Homo sapiens: one gene and its partners. The protein of the gene in region 3 purifies or fractionates together with the protein of the main gene of each other region. This does not show direct contact. Each region holds a gene or a part of one and is shown on either strand. Other genes may lie near its edges. The genes, in order: GCA, DHX36, PARVA and LIMS2.

Evidence for each region.
Region 1: the proteins of PARVA (region 3) and GCA purify together in Homo sapiens (affinity purification with mass spectrometry; 2 studies listed by BioGRID and IntAct, with this or other methods). This does not show direct contact.
Region 2: the proteins of PARVA (region 3) and DHX36 purify together in Homo sapiens (affinity purification with mass spectrometry; one large-scale study listed by BioGRID and IntAct). This does not show direct contact.
Region 4: the proteins of PARVA (region 3) and LIMS2 purify together in Homo sapiens (affinity purification with mass spectrometry; one large-scale study listed by BioGRID and IntAct). This does not show direct contact.

The regions. Positions count from the first base shown.
Region 1 is NC_000002.12:162,354,012-162,357,932, reverse strand, and holds part of GCA (grancalcin), read right to left. Parts: intron 1,496-3,921; coding exon 1,452-1,495; intron 1,176-1,451; coding exon 1,028-1,175; intron 1-1,027. UniProt on the Homo sapiens protein: Calcium-binding protein that may play a role in the adhesion of neutrophils to fibronectin. May play a role in the formation of focal adhesions.
Region 2 is NC_000003.12:154,321,688-154,325,687, forward strand, and holds the start of DHX36 (ATP-dependent DNA/RNA helicase DHX36), read right to left. Parts: upstream 2,801-4,000; 5' UTR 2,730-2,800; coding exon 2,487-2,729; intron 1-2,486.
Region 3 is NC_000011.10:12,471,245-12,475,165, reverse strand, and holds part of PARVA (alpha-parvin), read right to left. Parts: intron 1,422-3,921; coding exon 1,332-1,421; intron 1,254-1,331; coding exon 1,183-1,253; intron 1-1,182. UniProt on the Homo sapiens protein: Plays a role in sarcomere organization and in smooth muscle cell contraction. Required for normal development of the embryonic cardiovascular system, and for normal septation of the heart outflow tract.
Region 4 is NC_000002.12:127,665,396-127,669,316, reverse strand, and holds part of LIMS2 (LIM and senescent cell antigen-like-containing domain protein 2), read left to right. Parts: intron 1-3,921. UniProt on the Homo sapiens protein: Adapter protein in a cytoplasmic complex linking beta-integrins to the actin cytoskeleton, bridges the complex to cell surface receptor tyrosine kinases and growth factor receptors. Plays a role in modulating cell spreading and migration.

The DNA of each region.
Region 1 (3,921 bases), on a different chromosome or scaffold from region 3:
TAGATTTTCCCATAGTATTCTCAGAAAAATAATTTGAATATTTTAAAATATACATGAAGATCTTAAATTTGGATAATCCAGAATACCCTTTTTACATTCCACTGCCTAACGGGAACTCTGGAGGTTTTCTTTTCTGCCAAAGATTACATTAATTTCCCAACATTAGGCTGAATTAAGGTCCAGGTTTAATCCATTAGGTATTAAGGATCTATAATTGAACTACATATGTTTATATGGGCTGGACTGTCCCTACTACTAAATTAAAATGTCTATTTATAAAACAAAACCAAACAAATCACTAATTTGACTTATTTAAATTGCAATTTGAGATAAGCCCACTTCCATTGGGTTCAGATTTTAACTTCCAAAAAATTAATTTTCATACAAATAGATTTTGTTTAGAAGAGTGTAAATCACAAGCATAAGAACAATTCATAAAGCTACTTAAAACTGCATTAAGTTTAAGCAAATTAAACACCATTGTATGTTATCCATTTTAAAAGTACACTAGGAACATCAGCTTATCAGAGGTATAAGAATAAAGTTATATACTTCTAAATTACTCTAAAATGCAACCTTTCCATCCTGATGTATTTTGGCACCTGCTATGTGTTCTGCACTATCTAAGAAAAAAAAGACAAAAACATGGTTTCTACCACTGAAAACCTATTTTGTACAGACTTTTGACTGACTGAGGCAAGCTTTGGCTCCCAATTAGATATCCTGCCAAGTTATAAAAGAATACAATCTAACTGGTAAGTACTAACAAAGAAATAAATTTAAACACAACAGAAGAAATTCAGAATGTATGCATGTATGGAAGATCATCTTTTGAAAAAAATCATAATTAAAATGGTTTTGTTGAGGTCTTTGGTCAGAATTTACCTACAACCTTGAAAACAAACAAAGGAACTTGCTGGCAAAAAAATACATCCCTTTATTAGTTAGTAAATTGAAGCAATTAAGTTCATCTAATCAAAGAACAAAGATTAGCTTTATAGATTCTAAAGAATGTTAATGTTCTTACCCATAAGACCAATGGCTTGACGCAACTCATGATGTTCTACTGTGCCACTTCCATCTTGATCAACAGTCATGAAGTTTTCCTTCCAGGCATTAAGAGCTGCCCATAGCTCTTTGAATGCATTAAATCCCATTTTTCCTGTGTGATCTCTCTGATAGTTTTATTAACAAAAATAAATTCTGATACCTGAGTTTATCTGACTCTAAATCATTGACTAAAACATGAGTATGCTTCTGTAGACTTAGCCAAACTCATTATATGAACAGACTTCTGCATAAAAACTAGAAAGCCTAGAATTTAAACAGGATCTTACAAAGTATTTTTAAATTCACTAGTTTACTACAGGCACTGAAATCTAACCACTGGCTTGATAGTCAGAAAGCAATTACTCTTTATTCTAGTATTTTCTATTTCTATTCAAGGATACATCCAACATGGCAATCATAATTCTGCAGGTTTCCAAACTGAAGGCTGTAAAACATATTCAATATTTAAATTAGAGTATGCCCAACTTTATCTATGTAAAATTATGACAATCTCCAGTTTCAAAATAAAACATTAAAAAACTGCCAAAATATATAAAATCACCACAATCAACAAGCTATTATTGAATGTTAAGCACCCATTGTTTAAAAAAAATTACTGCCTTCAAAGTACTCACATCTAGTGAGGGGACTAAGTTAATTAAATGAGCAATTACAAACTAACTGAAAATTACTGTGACAAAGACATTCCAGGTATGTAAAGCACTTGGCTTCACCCAAGCCTGGGGAAAAGGAAGGCTTCCAGTCTTCATAACACAAATGACAAGTGGAGTTAAAGTAGAAGTTTGACATGTACTCAGAGATCACAAAACTTGCATTAAAGTATATGGGAGAGAGTGACATATGATGACATCAGAAAGGCAAATGAGGGCCAAATCATGAAACTTTTGAATACTACCCCCAAAAAGTTTGGGCCAATGAAAAGCCACTGAAGTGTTTTCAGAAGCAGAAGGGAAATTCTAAAATTTCCATTTTAGAAACTTAGTTTACAATGAATAAAATATAAAGTGAGATGATATTGGAAATAGGTAAGTCCATTGGTAATTTATTGTAATAGACCAAGTAAGAAAAAATGAGCATCTGAATTGAAGCAACTGGTTTTTCTCGGGGGTTGGGGGGAGAAAAAAGGAAGAAAAAATCAATACAAGCTATCTTAAAACCAGGGGTGATTTGAAATATTAACACTTTCATATTTATAGAACTACAACTGATGACCTATTGATAAAATTCAATTTTTCTAATCCTTTTCTAATTTTTCTAATCCAATTACATTCAATTTGTATGCTGACATATCTCAAGACTAATTTCATGCCCTGATAAAGAAAACATCACGTTAGTACAGTTTAAATTTACAAAGTGCTTAATAGCAGCTTGTTAATATGAATGAATGAAAATTTTCAAAATTATTTTATCCATAACATCTTAACATTTTATAAAAGCAGAAAATTATTTCAGCTAAATTTTAGACCCACTAAAGAAAAAATTATAAGACATTCCAAGAGTTAAAATTGCTGATTTTCTTTAAATGTTTAATATAGTATCAATGTTAGAATTGTTGGTTGTAGTATTTTCAAATTGACAACTCAATAGATACTCAATGTGTTCTTAGCATGAGTAAGGTGGCGTGTGTTACATGATTTCACATAAACATGCTAAACGTATAATAGTTCCAATTGTAAAAAAGGAAGAAACTGGGACCCAGAAAGGCAGTTCCCCACGTTTACAAAGCTAAGGCTATACAACTGTCAGAGTGAGGGGATTACATGAGAAATTTCTGGAATGGTATTTCCTCTTTTGGGCAAGTAAATAATATCTATTTTGCTTTACAATTAACTTGGCACACATTCATAAAGTGGGAGAATCCGAATTAATGATAATAGATCGCTAAAACTGAATCAGCAAATGAGCAGATCTTCAATCTCAGAATAGGAATGTGTATGTATAAGAAGAAATATTTAGGACAAAGAGTGGAGAGACAGACTTTTCAGGAAAGTTGACAGATTTTTCACTTCCTCCCCATAGCCCATTAGAATGGAGAGTAAACTGATTTAAGGCATAAAACTTTAGAGAAAAAGAGAATTAGACAGGAAACAAAGTAACAAAATTTTGCAAGTTGAAGAGCTGATGGATGTGAGTTAACCAACCTAGATCTGAGAAAATGGATTCCTGAACTTGTAATGAGAAAAGCTGAGAAGCAACCCTTGGAGAAGACCCCAAATGCCAAAGAATTGGCAGTACTTCTGAAAGTGGGTGTGAAAGTGGAGATAAAAACAGAAGAATTGGCTGAATGTCTACCTAAGGAGCATTCTAAGCCTCATATCCCCTCCCTGCCTCGGTTCAGTTGGATGGATGCTACACCTACTTCCAACCCAGCAGAAATCTGGAATTTTATTCTCTGGAGGAGTCTCTGAAATGTAAGATACCAGAGCTGAGACAGGGCTATCTTCTAAAAGCAAGGCAATTAAAGGACAATTTACAAAAGATTTGAGAACCCTTCTGAGTCCACCTCTCCTTTCCAGGCAGAAGGTCAACTGAAAACCCAGTCCAAAAGGGAATCCCTAAAGATACTGACACCCAGAGTTCCAAGACAAAACTGCCCAGCCAAATCACCATACAGTGAAGCCCACAATCAATGCCTAACCATGATCTCAGGGCTTCTAATCAGCAATTTAGTTAAAATAAGAGCAAAGCAGTATCATCAGATAACTGAGAAAAGCACCTAACATGAAAGACAACCAAAACAAGCAAAATGAGGAGAAAAAACAATCTGGAAAAAACAAAGGTTATATAGGAAGAAAAAACTTTAAAAATATATTAATAGTCTCAGAGAGATAAGGGACAATATCACATTCA
Region 2 (4,000 bases), on a different chromosome or scaffold from region 3:
ATGGCTCACGCCTGTAATCCCAGCACTTTGGGAGGCCAGGGCTGGTGGATCACCTGAGGTCAGGAGCTCAAGACCAGCCTGGCCAACATGGCAAAACCCTGTCTCTTCTAAAAATACAAAAATTAGCCAAGTGTGGTGGTGCACACCCGTAATCTCAGCTACTCAGGAAGCAGAGGGTGCAGTGAGCCGAGATCACACCACTGCACTCCAGACTGGGCAACAGAGTGAGACTCCAACTCAAAAAAAAAAAAAAAAAGTCTTCATTTTGAAAACACATGACATGACTTTAAAAGTGAAAGCTACCGAAATTCTGACTGGGAAACAATGATATCAAGCTAAAGGTGGTCAAAGAAGAGCTGGGACGAGCCCATTGAAAAATACTCCTATTTAAACAAGAAAGAAAGGTACATTTTGGACAGGAGAACAGTATGACACTGTAATGAAAAGTAAAAATAAAGTATGCCTAAAAAAACTATAATTATATCAGACTGGAGACATGGGCTCAGAGAAATGTGCACAGCGGTAAACCTGTTACGTTGAAGCCGTATTACCAAGATTTCCAGAGAACATGTCAAGATGCAACTGAAATATATCAGACTGAGACAGAAGTGACATGACTTCCAATCTGAAGTTGTGAATTAGGTAATAAAATGATCTAATTTTTCCTTTTAAAAGATCACCATAGGCGGCTCTGTAAAGCACAGACAATGCAGAGCAAGAATGGAAGCTAGATGACTAGTTAGAAGGCAAGAACAGAAAACAAACAGTGGCTTGATCTATGGTAACTATTCTGGAGGTAAGTGGTTAGATTGGGATATATTAACAAGGCAGAGATTTGCTGAAATGAAGGGGAAGAAGCAAAGATAAATCTCATTTGGCCTTGCCAAGTGAATAAATGGTCGTGTCACCACTAAAAGGAGGATGGGAACGCAAGTAGAAATGAAAAGTTCCATTCATAACATCCACTGCACAACTGGCTATACCCTTCATGTGGAAACAATAATGAACATTTTTTCCTGACTTATTTAACTTTTCATCTGTTTAGGTATTATTTTCTCAGCTAGACTGTAAGCTCTTTGAATACCACATTTCTTCAAGTCCCTGGAGCAATATGCATAAAACCTTGTTTCAAACAGAGCCTTAATAAATAAAAGTTGTAAAGTTACTTAGACGTCCGTATCCTGATTTTCAAGCCAGTATGCCCAACGAAAAAGTTAATTTGGGGCTGTAAAAGAAATGGATTTGTTTTTTAAAGAAAAGTTTAAATTATGAAGATAAATGGATAAGGCCCCCAAAACACCTGAATGAACATGACATGGTTAAAAGAAATAAAAAGAAATGGAACGGTTTAAAAATAGTAGTCTAGGCCTGGCGTGGTGGCTCACGCCTGTAATCCCAGCACTTTGGGAGGCCGAGTTGGGTGGATCACCTGAGGTCAGGAGTTCGAGACCAACCTGGCCAACATGGTGAAACCCCGTCTCTACTAAAAATACAAAAATTAGCCGGAGGTGGTGGCGGACGCCTGTAATCCCAGCTACTCGGGAGGCTGAAGCAGGAGAATCGCTTGAACTTGGGAGGCGGAGGTTGCAGTGAGCTAAGATCGTGCCACTGCACTCCAGCCTGGGCGACAGAGTGAGACCCTGTCTTAAAAAAAAAAAAAGTTGCCTAAATGATGATCTAATTACACTCTATAATACATTTTATAAGGTGCTTTTAAAAAGTCACCAAAGGCCTATACTAAGAAAGTTCCTGCTTAATGATAAAAATTATTTTTTATTAGAATTTTATTTACTAGTCACTCGGAGAACTTTGTTTCCCTTACTACAGATCTTTAAGACACAAATCAACCTGACAATCACCTGAAGAGAGGAGAGTAAGCCAAATCATCTCTGGAGATTCCTTTCATTTTCCTTTTCAAAGAGAATCTGCTCATCAATAGAAATTTCTCCACCCCAACATAAAAAACAAAAACCTAGGTTTGCAGATAATTTTAACACTAATAATAAAAGCTGGACTATTTTTCTGAATGATCCACATCCAAAACAGTGTCTGCCTGCTTTTGTTCCGCGCAAACCTATCTCAAATGTAGAAAGGTCGCTATGTGCTTCTTCACCAGGCAAAGACCTTAAAGTGACAATTATTATTCTAAGGGAAAGGACGGCCAGAGATACGACAACGACACTCCTAATAAAGTTAATTTCGGTTGGAACGTGAACTTAACATTTGCTTTGTCACAGTTCTCAAGTCCTTTAAGCAAAGTATATATTCAGCCTGCATAAATCCTGCCTGTTTTTGGTCAGATGAGCATGGCTAATGTTACGCAGTACACCCGCTACGGGGAGCGCCAGCATAATATATTTGCGCCTCATTTACATTTCACAAAACACGTGCATCACTTAAGAAACAAAACCAAGAAAAAGGGGGCAGCGGGAGAGAGAAGAAAACCTGTGCTGCCTCATCCTCTCCACTACTGAATCCGAGATTACCTCTTGCCTCTCCGCTTCCTTGTTCTTCTGCCCCTGTTTTTTCGCGTACCACATGCCGATTTCGCGGCCTTTCAGGTGCCCGGGATGCCGGCCCCTGCCGCCTCGACCACCCCCTCCGCCGCCGCCGCCTCCTCCGGAGCCTCGGTTACCTCCATGACCCCCTGCTGGCCCCCCTCCATAGCCCCCACCGGAGCTGCGGGGACCCCCATCACGGCCCCAGTTCTGATGGTAGTCATAACTCATTGTCCTGGCAGACTACAACCCGTCAGAACCAGCAACCGCTGGAAATGGCGTCCGGGCCCGGAAGCCACTGTGCGCCCACTTCCGTTTTGCTTCCGTAGCACCGCACAAGAGGGCGGGCCATTTAGCGTCACAAGCAGTGGTTTCTGGTGACGTCACGGGAGGACGACCCCGGTGGTCTGGAGGGTGGCAGGGATCAGGTTCTGTCTGAGCCCCCGAGTTGTTTATCTTTGTACCTCTGGAGCAACAGCCAGCCAAAGGCTCGTAGATTTTCTTTCCCTAGGCCCAGCAAGTGAGCCAATAGCTTTTGGTTTTTACTTTCTTATTCCTGGTAAATCCGCAGTTTTTTTGCACTTAGGTCCTAGGGTAGTAAACGTTGATTGAAACAAAAGAACCCTTGGATCAATTCGCCGTCTTCTAAAGAAAAGTCTCTAAAAAATGAGTTCTTCTAGTCTTGAAAACAGCCTGACAACTATTCAAATATGTAATTTAAAATCCCCTTACCTCCTTGAAAGTGTTGTCACTATTTAGTACGTTTATCCAATAGTGTTAAGATGAGCGTGTCTACCCAAATTCGGTGCAGAGCTCTTAGGCAATGTAAATAAACTACTTTGAAGATTCATGTGTTCATATGAAGCCACATACTGTTTATTAACCAGCACACTGAGTGTTTTGTACAAGCTGTTCTTGAATAATCAAGTAATTGGGCCACACAGGCTTGGATGTACACCAGGAGATATCCAGCTCATGTTACAGTTAACTGATGTAAAGGTGCTGGGAATACTCACTGAACAAAGCAAGTATGGCATGAGCTTTTATTTGCCTACAGTCTTAAGGGAAAGACAAAGGCTATCTTTGTGCAGTGAATTAAGAAAGGGAAATGCTGTATGCCAGGAAGGGGTCTACAATACACCATTGTGGCCTAAAAATTATTTTGAGCAAAGACATTTGAGTTTCTGAAATCTACCTGTCTAAATGCAGAACCACACGGAGGAATTCAAATCAAGCTCCTCCCTGGGAGGGAAACCCAGGAAGACTGACTCTTATCACTGGAGGTTAGAAGCTGGCAACACACTTGAATAGACATTGTCACAAAGCTATCATATCTGGCATCTGTTTTAAGGTGTCATTTATTTTTACTAAAAGTCATTTGTTTTTTCCATACGTGCTGTTTTCCCCTTTCCTTCCCTTTATAAGATGGTAGATAAGTCAGAACTCTACCTCCCTGAATCACCTTTTTCTGTGAACTCTATTATGTATGTGGTTAAGTCTGT
Region 3 (3,921 bases):
AGCAGTTCTGGCATCCTTGTGTTGCTGGGTAGTGGCTGATCTCAGGTTGAAGAGGCAGCTAGAGCAAGGAGTCTAAACACCACCTCTTAGGAGTCGACTGCAACCTGTGGTGGATGAGAAACTCTGAGAGGTCTTGCACAGGGGAACCGTGTATTCAGATTTGCATGGGGGAATGAATCACTCTGACATCCAGTGCTATTTTTTTTTTTTTTTTGAGACAGGGTCAGGCTGGAGTGCAGTGGCGTGGTCATGGCTCACTGCAACCTCTGCCTCCCAAGTTCAAGCCATCCTCCCACCTCAGCCTCCCGAGTAGCTGGGATTACAGTCATGCGCCACCACACTTGGCTACTTTTTGTATTTTTAGTAGAGATGGTCTGGGATTACAGTCATGCGCCACCACACTTGGCTACTTTTTGTATTTTTAGTAGAGATGGTGTTTCACCCTGTTGCCCAGGCTTCAAGTGATCCACCCACCAGCTAATTTTTTGTACTTTCAGTAGAGATGATGTTTCATCGCATTGCCCAGGCTGGTCTCGAACTCCTGAGCTCAAGTGATCCGCCCGCCTTGGCCTCCGCAGAGTGCTGGGATGACACTCATGAGTGCCTTTTGTCTTAAGTGCAGCTTGGTTAAGCTGAAGAGGAGGAACATAGGACAGGGAATAAGACGCAGGGGAGAAATGAACAGTTTTGAAAGGACAAGCGCACGCCAGCCACTGCGCAGGTACGTAATGCACAGTATGTCACTTCATCTCCTTTATTTCTGCTTGAGTTCCAGCTCCTTGTTTATGACCATAAACAAAGCATCTGGCTTTTCTGAAACTTGATTTTGTCATCTGGAAAATGGGGATGAGACTAATTACTGCTCCACTGCCTGCTTTTGAGGGTCCTTGAGAAAATAAGCATTTTGTGCACTCTGGAATCCTGGCCATCGTGAGCTTACCTGTACTGAACTGTCTGGTGCTGTGACCAGCACCACTCACTGGGCATTTGTCACATCCCACACTTAAACAATCGGTTACGTTTTCGATGGCCATCTGCTAGACAACTCACTGCCTGAGGCAGGGGCTGCCATGACTTTTTACCTTCTCTCAGGGGCTCGTGGGGTACCTGCACAGAGCAGGTGGCATATGGACACATGGTGGGTCAGTGAGGCACCTGAAGCCGCTCCTGATTTCTTCTTACCTTCATCAGTTCTTGAAGCTTGGGGTCACTGCGTGAGTTTGGATCCACCATTGTTCGCACCTCATTCTCCTCTTTAAAAAGAAAAGGAATTCAGTGGGGGTGCTGGCATGGGAAAGCTTAAGCGAATTCAGAGACAAGAGCACAGTTACCCAGCATCGTGTCCTCGGGGTCCAGCTCAAAGGGAATTGGGCTGAGGGGCAGGTTGATGGCGTTCATTCCCTCCTCCTGCAGCTCGGACACTGGAAGAAAAGGAAGAGCAGGGTCACATTTCAGCTGACGGACGGCAGGGGGTTGGAGCTCTGTAACAAGGGTGTTCGATATTGACATTGAGAAAAAAACCCACTAAGGGTAGATTACAGCTGTTACTCAGCCTACGATCAATTCATGGCCTCGCCTGGCTGAAAGGACCTAATTGTCCCCTTAATCTCACCTCTGCCAGCTGTCACTTCACTTGCTTTCCTCAGGGAAGCAGGGAGGTCTCAAAAGCACAGAAATCTCCCTCCTCTCAGAAAAGATTTCGGAATGAATGGAAGCGAGGTGGGCACTGACTTCTTTCTGAGTCTCTACCTCCTGCCTGTCCCATCTTCCAGGACTTCCTGTCTGGTGCCCGGCGACTGTGTGCTGACAGGATGAATGGGGTCATGGGTTTGAGGCTATATGTACGCTGTAAGGCATTTCCATCCTCCGTTCAACCGTCCTCTGACTTCTCACCTCTCCTGGCTTCCCTGAGGTACTCTCCTGATTATCTGCCTTCCCACCTCCACCCAACCCCAGCCACTGCTCAAAAATACCTCAGTTCTGGCCCTTCCCTGAGCTCTGGTCCTATCCCTTGAGATGGAACCAGCTGTGGGACCTGGGGCCAGGCACTTCATCTCTCTTGGCCCATTTCCTCAGCTGAAAATAGAGTTTGACTGGATGAACAGTAAGCTCTTTTACAGTCTTCAAATCCTAGAAATCTGTAATTCCACCTTCCTCAGAAAGAAAAACAAAAACAGGTAAAAACTACCAAAGATTACCAGCCCACGCTCCTCCAAGTGACCAGCCCCCACATGGAGCCTTAGTACAAAAGAATTCCTCCCACAAAACCAGTTGTGTGACAGACGTTTGGTGAGTGCTGACCTTGGATTACCCCTCCTAAAAGCAGTGACTTAAATCCCCTTGCTTTTTGCCAATTAAGCACAGAAAGGCCATTTTCTCAGAAGGCGTTGGTCACCAAGAGGTTCTTAAAGAGCTAATACAGCAGCTGCAATCAACCTTAATAAAAGCAGCGTCCCATCTTTCCATTTTATTTTTTTTATTGACTCTGGCCTCACCAATTGCCAGCATAGACTTGCAAGAAATCCTAAGCACAAGGCAGCCACTTACAAAGAGTTCTTTCACCTCAATACACTCACTGATAGCTGCAGTTGGACTGGAAGGAGACTGAGAAACAAAGGGAGTGAAACACTCTCTACGCCCTAAGAGACACAACTTGCATGGCGAGGCTGGTATTTAGTACCTTTGCAGCAGGTCTTTGACATTCACATAGGGTACCAGCCAGTCACCACCTTGATCTCCACATTCACAGACACCGACTATTTCATAGAATTCTCCATAAAACATGACAGAAACACAGAAGGGGTACCTTCAAAGCTTAAATCAAGCTTGTCCAACCCACAGCTCACGGGCTGCAATGTGGTCCAGGATGGCTTTGAATGCAGCCCAACACAAATTCATAAACTTTCTTAAAACATTATGACATTATCTGGAGATTTTTAATAGCTCATCAGCTATCATTAGTGTTTAGTGTATTTTATGTGTGGCCTAAGACAATCCTCCTCCTTCCAATGTGGCCCAGGGAAGCCAAAAGATTGGACATCCCTGGCTTAAATGATTCTGTAGGTACAGATTGTGTTTGTTTTCCAGCTAAGCACAACTGTTTCCTTAAAATTCTATAGTTTCTTCTAATATCTCCCCTAGAACTACCAGTTTTCTTTCTTTCTCAGGCTATTTCTCACAAAGAAGCACAATTTTCATTACTTTGTTAACAAGCATTGCTACGCAAGGAGTGAGCAGTGGAAATAAAGTCATGTTTAAATGTGGCTGCAAGGCTAGGCTTACTGGCCAATGAAGGAACTTGCTCCTGCCTGGGACTTTCTCTCCTGTAGCTACACTGATCGGCACTGTCCAATACAGTAGCTACTAGCCACTTGAGCTATTTAAATTTCAGTGAATTAAAAATTCCGCTCCGTAGCTGCACCAACCACATTTCAAGTACTCAATGGCCACAGGTGGCTGGTACCTACAACACCAGACAGCATGGATGTAGAAAGGTTCCATCACAAGATCATCAAGTATGTTCTCATGATTTAAGTGAGGACATGCCATATTTGGTTTTCTGCTCCTGTTAGTTTGCTAAGGATAATGGCCTCCAGCTCCATCCACGTCGCTGCAAATTACATGATCCTTTCTTTATTCATGGCTGCATAGTGTTCCATGGTGTATATGTACCACATTTTCTTTATCCAGTCTATAGTTGATGGGAAAATAATCCATACAACAAGCCCCCAGGACACAAGTTTGCCTATGTAACAAACATGTACCCCTGAACTTAAAGTTAAAAAATAAAATTTTTAAAAGAGTAAGTGGATAATGTCCTAGGTCATCCCATTCAACTAATGTCCATGTCCACATTTAAATCTCCAGCCTGGAGCTCCAAGCTTATGAATCTAATCACTTATTCAATGTCTCCTCTTAGGT
Region 4 (3,921 bases), on a different chromosome or scaffold from region 3:
TTGCTTGAGTTTTTTTTGTCATGTTTAGGAAACTATTGCCTAATCCTGGCTCATGAAATGAAAACATCTGTTTTCTTCTAGGAGTTTTATACTGTTAGCATGTAGCTATCCAGTTGTCCTAGCATCATTTGTTGATAAGACTACTCTTCGCCCCATTGAATGGTCTTGGCACTCTTGTCAAAAATCAGTTGACCACAAATATATGGGATTATTTTTGGACTCTCGAGACAGGGTTTCACTCTTTCACCCAGGCTGGAGTGCAGTGGCAAGATCTTGGTACATTGCAGTCTCAACCTCCCTGGGCTCAGGTGATCCTCCTACCTGAGCCTCCTGAGTAGCTGGAACCACAGGTACACACCACCACACCTGGCTACTTTCTGTATTTTTTGTAGAGATGAGATTTTGCCATGTTGCCCAGGCTGGTCTTGAATTCCTGGGCTCTGCCTGCCTCAGCCTTCCAAAGTACTGGGATTATAGGCGTGAGCCACTGCACCCAGCCTATTTCTGGACTCTTGGTTCTGTTCTATGGGTGTATATGTCTATCCTTACACCACTGCCACACTTACAATTTTTTAGTAAGTAAATTGTAATTTTTAAGTAAGGTGTTTTTTTTTTTTTTTTTTTTTTTTTTTTTTTTTTTTTTTTTTTGAGACGGAGTCTCACTCTGTCACCCAGGGTGGAATGCAGTGGCCTGATCTCAGCTCACTGCAACCTCCACCTCCTGGGTTCAAGCGATTCTCCTGCCTCAGCCTTCTGAGTAGCTGGGACTACAGGTATGTGCCACCACACCTGGCTAATTTTTATATTTGTAGTAGAGATCGGGTTTTGCCATGTGGGCCAGGGTAGTCTTGAACTCCTGACCTCAAGTGATCCACCTGCCTTGGCCTCCCAAAGTGCTAGGATTACAGGTGTGAGCCACTGCACCTGGCCTCTTTGTTTTTTTTTAAAGTTGTTTTGATTATTCTGTGTCACTTGCATTTTCATATAAATTTTAGGAATGCCTTGTCTATTTCTTTAAAAAAGGCAGGAATTTTAATGGAGATTGTATTGAATCTATAGGTCAATTTGATGTAGTGTTGTATTGCCATCTTAACAATATTAAGTTTTCCAATCCATGAACATGGGATATCTTTATTTAGGTCTTCTTTAATTTATATCAATAATGTTTTATAATTTCAGTGAATAAGAAGTCTTGCATTTATTTTGTTAAACTTACTCCTAAGTATTTTATTCATTTTGATGCTGTCCCAAATGGGGTTGTTTTATTTCATATTCAGATTTCTCATTGCTAGCGATTCTGGTATATTGAGTGTATACCTTGCAGACTTACTGAACTCATTTCTTATCTGTAAATAGGGTTTCTTTTTTTGAGGAGGGATTCTTCCGAGTTTTCTATATATGAGTATGTAATATGTAAATAAAAATAGTTTTACTCTTCCTTCTCAAACTAGATGTCTTTTATTTCTTTTTCTTGTCTAACTGTCCTTGATAGAATCTGCAGTGCAATGTTGAAAACAAATAGCGGACTGGAAATCCCCCTGACCTTAGGAGGAAAGCATTCATTTTCTCATCACTAAGTATGATGTTAGCTATGGGTTTTGGGTAGATGCCCCTTATCAAATTGAAGAAGTTCCCTTCTATTCCCAGTTTGTTGGGTGCTTTTATTATGAAAAGATGTTGGATTTTGCCAAATGTGTTTTCTGCATCTGTTGAGATGGTCATAGAGTGTCCTCCCTATATTCTATTGATATGGTATATTACATTGAATTTTGGATGTGAAACCAACCCTATGTTCTTGGGATAAATCCCATTTGGTCACGGTGTATAATACTTTTTATAGAGTGTTAGATTTATTGTATTTTATCGAGGACATTTGCATCTATGTGACTTTAGCATTTTATTTTGAGATCAAGATAATATTTATAGAATGAGTTGTGAAGTATTCCCTCCTAGTCTTTCTTTTCTTTTGTTTGGAAAGATTTTGTGAAGGTTTGTTGTTTTTTGTTTTTTGTTTTTTTCTCTTTTTGAGACAAGATCTCACTCTGTCACCCAGGCTGGAGTGCAGTGGCGTGATCTCAGCTCACTGCAACCTCCGCCTTCCAGGTTCAAGTGATTCTCCTGCCTCAGCCTCCTGAGTAGCTGGGATTATAGGCATGTGCCACCACACTGGTGTTTTGTATGTTTGTTTGTAGGTTTGGTGTTAATTCTAGTTAAACCTTTGATATAATTCATCAGTGAAGCCATGTCGCTCTGGCTTTACTTTGTGACAAGTTTTTTGGTTACTGTCTCAGTCTCTTTACATGTTACTGGCCTTACTAAGTGATTTGGGTAGGCTTTGTGTCCCCAACTAAATCTCATCTTGAATTGTAATCCCTATAATCCCCACGTGTCAAGGGAGAGACCAGGTGGAGGTCATTCAATCATGGGGGTGTTTCCCCCCATGCTGTTCTTGTGATAGTGAGTTCTCACAAGATCTGCTGGTTTTATAAGGGGCTCATCCCCCTTTGCTTGGTATTTCTTCCTGCCACCTTGTGAAGAAGGTGCCTTGATTCCCCTTTGCCTTCTGCCACGACTATAAGTTTCCTGAGTCCTCCCCAGCCCTGTTCAACTGTGAGTCGATTAAACCTCTTTCCTTTATAATTTACCGAGTCTCATGAAGTTCTTAATAGCAGTATGAAAATTTAGACTGATACATTTGGATTTTCTATTTCTTCTTGAGTTCGTTTTGGTAGTGTCCTTCTAGGAATCTCTCCATTTCAGTAGGTTATTTCATTTATTGGCATACAGTTGTTCATAATATTCCATTCTGCTACCTCCTTACTGGGACCACGAGCTATTATTATTCAAGGAAGCCATGGAGTTAGGGAGCAGGAATAAGGGACTAGGATAAGTTAAAACAACACAAACCTCACTGGTTTGTGTTTGTTTGTTTGTTTACCAAGATTCATCTGTTTTTCTTGACCAAATGTTCCTAGGGTTACTGAAAACCTTTGGTGGATTTGCAGAGTTCTGAAAGAGTAGATTCTGATAATTTTTGCTAGGTTTTTCATTGCTTTTATGGAGGGATGAACTTCTGGAGGTCCTTACTCCACCACTTTCTGCTGACATCACTCTCGGTGTTTTTGCAAATATCTAGAGCCAGAGCACTGAACCAAATCCCATTTGGTCATGGTGTATAATACTTTGTATAGAGTTCTAGATTCAGTTTACAGTATCTGTGGCTCCCAATCCCATCCCTGCAGCAGGACAGGCTGCAGAATGGGTGGTAAGGTTGTGCAGAGATTTGGGATTTGGGCTCAATCAGACTCTAAGCCTCTCTCAATTTCTAGCCTTCGATGTCCGCTTTTATAGTAAATATTTGTTGAATTGATTAGTACTTGGTAAACTTGTGCTTGAACTTCATTTACAGATTATGTTGCACAAAACACTTGTGGCTGTAGCCTCCTTTCCAGTGCTATATGTGACCCTTGGAGCCCTAAATAAATGTTTCCTCCTTACAGAAAACTGCGGGTCTGCATGAGAGTCCTGGATTCTAGTGTTGAGGATTTCCACATGGATGGGCTGAGTCGGGAGTGGTGAGAGGGTCTAGGCCCTATGGCATTGACTTGTAGCTGCTGTTAAGAACATTTTCGGTGTAAGTTTTCTTAAGCATTCGGCTACCTACATCAGAGAGTCAGCGGTATTCCCTATTCATTTTGGCTCCTCTGGGCTCAGCTTCTCCATGCCCTTTAGCCCCTGGGGCCACCTTTAAAAACTATTTGTTGAACTGATCAGTGTTGGGCAACTTTGGAATTGGACTACATTTACAAATTATACTGTACCCAATGCTTGTCGTCACTTGACTGCCAGGGTGCTTAATGAGTACCTCCTCCTGTTGGGACTTGCTGGGTGAGTGTGTTCCTCAGTGGCGTGTGGGCCTGG